2 separate regions of the Homo sapiens genome follow, and region 1 is linked to region 2. Evidence: fine-mapped expression QTL. Tissue or cell type: whole blood. Region 2 holds a variant in brackets; the other region holds the start of a gene. All regions are shown on one strand. Distances are between the middles of the regions.

What was found. PIP is the estimated chance that this variant, and not a neighbour inherited with it, causes the effect.
Region 1: it holds the start of BFSP2-AS1, and the variant in region 2 is fine-mapped to the expression of BFSP2-AS1 in whole blood (TOPMed, PIP above 0.99).

Annotation. Positions count from the first base shown.
Region 1 is chr3:133,489,963-133,492,726 of GRCh38, forward strand. It overlaps BFSP2-AS1 (BFSP2 antisense RNA 1), which reads right to left and starts at 1,147. Exons shown (of 4, transcript NR_189064.1): 1 at 940-1,147. It also overlaps the pseudogene MAF1P1.
Region 2 is chr3:133,410,412-133,413,175 of GRCh38, forward strand. The region is part of intron 1 of BFSP2 (beaded filament structural protein 2); the gene reads left to right. Among named protein-coding and RNA genes, the nearest start is that of BFSP2, 12 kb to the left of the region's middle. The variant A/G (reference allele first, on the strand shown) is at 1,594.

The DNA of each region.
Region 1 (2,764 bases), 80 kb after region 2:
AGCACCTAAATGCCTTAGTAAAGTACCTGCAATGCCAGAAAATGGGAGATAAAGCCTGACAATATTCAGGAGTCTGCCACATGCGTGAAGCCTCTAGAGTCCAGTGGTCTGGGCTTTGTTGGGATAGACCTTCTAACATGAGATTCAAGTTGTACTTTACACCAGAAAGAGCCATGAAGAAAAAGATATGAAGCTTAATTTTCAGAAGTAACACAAACCAGATTTGAGTATCTGTTGCTGTGAACCACTAACTCAAGTAACCCTTAAGGGTACAAGGTTTTTGGCTTTTGTTTTTGAATTTTTATTTTAACATAATTTCAGGCTTACAGAGCAGTTGAAAGAATAGTTGAAGAATTGCCATATACCCTTCACTCAGATTTCACAAATATTAACATTTTCATAGGCAGACAGAAGCAAATTATTTTTAAGTTGAAGTAGTTAAGTTTCTTTTATACTTATTTAGTTCTAGGAATTTTGACTGATAGACATTGACTGGTGGGGGAGGTGGAGGTTGCTGGCTGACCAAGGTGATCTGTGGTGGTTGGTGGCATGTTGGTGGCTAAAGCAGGCAATGTGCAGTGTGGTAAGGATGTGTCATAGTGACCACCTGGATGAGCCAGCAGGGCCAGGTATAATGAAACATTGCCATGGAGTTTCTTCCCCCAGATACAGTGTGGCCCAGGTGGATGCCACGGTGCCACCCTCTGGTGCTGAGGAGCCCACACTGTGCGGAGCCTGCCCTGCCTATGCACCGGTGCCGATGACCCAGCCAGGCCTGATTTAGCCCCACCAGGCAGGCAGCAATGGCCCCTCTCAAGCATGGAGCTCCCTCCCTGAGACAGGAAGCTATTGGAGAACTGGGCTTTGAAGCCATCAACTCACAGCTAACTGTAGAGAGCAAAGATACCCACATTATCAGCAGGATTGAGAGCTACTCACGTAAGATAGCAGGAGACGACAAACACTGTTCTGACAGGAGGGCGGCCCACATACTGAAGGCTCTCTCCCCATCCCAGACCTCAGGCCTCAGCCCCAGCAGCCTGAGCAAGAACCAAGGTGGCAAGGACAAGGGCCCCCCTCAGGGACAAGTGCAATTGCAAGACCCTCTTCCACTTGATTGTCATGCTCAGCGAGTCCTTTCAGGCCTGACTATGACCTCAGCACAGCCCGCAGCCATGGGTTCAGCCGGAAGCCCAGCCTCAGGTGGGTGGTGAATGCAGTCAACCGCAGTCTGTTCTCAGCTGCGTGGGGGGACATCAAGGTCCTAGAACACAGCTGTGGAACACAGTGGATGAGGAGATCCACCTGGCTTAATGAGACACCCACAGCTATAACCCAGACATGGACCCAGATGCCTTCAGAGAAGAAGATACCCTCTGGTCCTTCAACTACTTCTTCTACAACAAAGGGCTCAAGCAAATTGTTTTCTTCAGCCACCGCTCCATTAGCAGCTCCACCTGCACACCCTCAGAGGCAGGCAACGAGATGGACCTGGAACTGGGGGAAGAGGAGGAAGAGAAAGGAAGCAGAGGTGGAGGCAGTGAGGGTGGGGCCGAAGAGACCAGACCAAGGAGGACAGGTTCCCAGTGATTTGTATGTGATGAGGAGTAGCACAGGCCCCAGCTTCATCCAGCTTCAACCAATGCCTGGACCTGCCCACCTGAGAGGCCCTGAGGCCTCCCCAGCTGCAGGCCAGACCCTGGTGCTGTCAGAGTCTCAGCACTGCCCAAGGCCACACCTGCCTGGCCCTTTGGCTCCAGCCTGTAGGTGTCCACTCAACCCCATAGGCTTCTGCTGCCCACGCTGTGGCTGGACTAGACAGCACAGGACCTGCTGCAAAGAGTAACCACCTTGCCCAAACGAACTACCACAGGCAGGGACAGCTAGACCACAGAGTTTATTTTTGTATTTCTGCTGGGCCTGCACACTCCAGCCCAAAGGGCTTATAGCCAGAGGCCCCAGAGGTCATGAGCTCTAGTCTTGGGTCAGCTCTTGGCACCCACCTGTACCCCCACCTCACCCATTTGGCTGCATGCACTGAGTGTCACTTTGCTGCAGCTCATTGCTTTCCAATAAAAATGTTTGTGACTTAAAAAAAATTGAGACAAAAATTTAAAAATTTTATAACATGCTCATGAATGCTGGCAACCTCACCTCCACCAGCACCCCACCCCAGCTGCCACCACCGCCAGTACAAGTGCAACACCAGCAACCCCACGGCTGCCAGTGCCCCAGCCCCCATTTTCCCCCCTACCAATGCACCACCACCACCACTGGCATGAGCACATGCAGGAACACCGCCTCCCCATTTCTGCTGGAACCCCTCCCCAGCTAACACGTGTGCACCCCGCCATGCTGCTGCAGCTGCTGCCATACATCAGTAAGCACAGATCTCACTGACACCACCCTGACCAAGTGCTTTGGCTAGCATCTTCCATCACAGTGCTGTGGCCAGCAGACTGGGAACAACTCAGCCCCTCCAGCAGAATAGATTCCTAACCTTGAGGGTTCAGATAGCACAGCCAGGCGCCCAGCACCAGCCCTCCCAGAGTTAGAGCACGCAGCCCAGGAGTGCTGAGCTGAGTCTGGGCCCCCTAAAATCTTCCAGAAATGAAGCAAGTCAACCAAACCCACCATATACCACAATCAAACCAAGATCATCAAAGAAGATAAAAGCAGAAAACCTCTCCAAAGCACATCAACTTCAAAAATTGAAGGAACATCAGCCCACACAGATGAGAAAGAACTAGTGTGAGAACTCTGG
Region 2 (2,764 bases):
TCACAGCACTCCAAGCCGCGCTCTTCCAGCCCTGGGAAACCCCAGGCTGTCTCTTCGTTAAGCTCCAGTCATTCCAGCTCTCATGGGAATGATCAGCATAGCAAGGAATATCAGCGCTCCAAATCACCTGGGGACCCTAATGCAAACGGGGATTCTCCCTCTCACGTATCTTTTCCAAGTGGGCAGCACTCAAATCAGTCTTTCCCACCTTCGTTGATGTCAAAGTTCAGTTCAATGTTACAGAAACCTATTGCCTGTGTGCAGCCCGTGGGCGGACAGGAGTCCGTGGGCGGACAGGAGTCTGTGGAACCAGAGCTGTCCTCTGAGCGCTACAGTAGCCAATCCCATGGTGACAGCACAAATGAGCTGCAGCCCAGCAGCAAAGCACATCTCGCCAGGCTGAAAATACCTTTCTAACCGCTGGACCTAAGTCACACATTCAGAGCTTTTAATATTGTGACTATGTGAAGCAATTGAACATGAAATTCTGATTGAACTTGAACTGCCTTTTTGCCTTAATAGTAAAGAATGTAAAAGTTTAGAGATGTTTTAAAGTTTAAAGAAAGACTTGTGAGCCACTTCCAAGTGAATCCATAGAGACCTGTTAGCTCCCCTCTTGGGAAATAGACAAAATGTCATTTACAGTTTTCAAATATTAAAGTAAGTCAGTTATAGAATAAAAGCATGATCCATCAATTTTTAAAAGAATATTATTAAGAACATTAACTGCAATAGATTGAAATCCATCAAATATGTCAGTATAACACCGAAAAAAAAAAAAAAAAAAACTAATTAATCACCTTTGGAGCCCACTGAGGAACCAACTCATTTTTAAAACTGGTAAATAATGAGAGAAAATAAAGCATTTTCCTGCCTTTCTTATAAGACCTATAGGTATATCCAGTAAGAAAAATAAATAAAGAGAGGAATTATCTTTTTATAGATGTATTCCAGCTAATAAAGAAAAATAATAGAATTATTAATTTTATTTATATCTATAATAAAACAATGGCTCTAGGCAATAACAATAATCAAATGGCTATGACCTTCACAAAATGCGACCAGCAGCCGTTCTGCATCTCCTGGTGGAGTACACATCACCACCTATGAAGTAGTCTTGCAAACAAACAAAAAACCTGAATATGATTAAGCCTCAAGATAAAACTACTAATTTACAGAAAAGAAGGGGGTCAGATGAACGGGTTAATTCTATAGTAAGCTCTACTGTGTCTGGAAATTTAGTTTTAATAAAGGCAGCACTTGAAGCCAATAGAGGGAAGGGTGGACTTTTTAATAAGTGATATTTAGACAACTAGACAGTCATAAGGAAAATAATAAAAGTATTATTATAGAGATGAAACCAGCAAAATCCAAACTCTGGGAAACTATAAGACAAAAGACCCAATTTTTTAACAAATAAAAATTGCAAGGGAAAGAAGCAAGATGGTAAGAGAAATCTATACAGTAAAAGAGACTAAATTAACATATCAGCCCATCAAAATGGGCTTTATTTGGATCACTATCCAAACAATTAAAAAATATATTAGACACGAGAAAAGATAAACACTATTTGATAATTGAGAAAGTATTACG[A/G]AAGTATTATTAATTTTTAGACGTGATCATCGTTGTGAAGTCATGTGTTCTTTTTAAAGCATTCTTATAATTTGCCAGTACAGGCTGAAATATTTGAAGAAGAAATAATATGATGTCTGGGATTTGTTGAAAATAATCTCAGGCAGAGTGGCAAGACGTGTGGGCACAAGTAAAACAAAATAGGCCACGTGCTTATAATCAAGGAAGCTGGGTGATGCATATATGGGGGTCCACTATAACAGATTTCTTGTGACTGACATTTGAAATTTTTGTAAAAATGCAGCTAGAAGACCTACCTCATCGGGTTGGTGCAGGAATGTAAATGAAATGATGTGTGTAAATCGCCTGGCACATAATCAATGCTTTAAGTTTGTGGAATTGAATAAACTTGAAGACATACATTAAGTGAGCAGTAACACAAACAGCTGCTTACATGAGCGCGTTGATCAACCGACATACGCTGTGGGAGTTTCCAGAAAGAGCAGGGTATTGATTAGTTCTCAGCAAGGGTGCCCCAGGAAGTGGGGACTGAATGTGGGTCCCAAGGAAGATGCCAGAAGATGGCCCTTCAGAGCGGGGCCCCGCGTGGACCAAGGTGGGAGCCGGGCATGGCGTCCTCAGGGCAGTCTGGGTGCCGGGCAGGCCTCCTACCAAGCGCCAGCTCTGCCGGGGCCACTGCTCTGTCTCCCTCCCTCTCCACTTCCAGAGCCTGGCACAGGGAGGCATACCTCGACACACAGCGGGTGTTCAAGAAACGGCCGGTGGTGAAAGGTGAATGTGGAACCAGACAGGCTCCAGGTTTCAATTCAGAACTCCAGCTCAGGGGTTCTCTGAAATTCCAGACCAGCAGTGAGACAGGAAGCGGCTGCAATGTCTGACACAGAGAAACAACGCAGCAGAATCCTCTGCCGCTGTGAGAAGAGAACCAGGATGCTGGTTAGATACTGACGTGGAGCTGGCGCCAGAATGTATCTGAGTAACCACGTCTGTGCTCTGCTACTATTTCTGTTTCTTAGAAAGTGGAGGGCAGACCCTCTCTGGAAGCACACATAGGGGCTGCGGACAGTGGAGGCTTCTGGTGAGAGGGCTGGGGCTGGAGACAGGGCAGGAGCAGGCTTACTTTGGGGTATATACTCTTTGACACTGTTTGGAGGTTTTACCTTAAATAAAA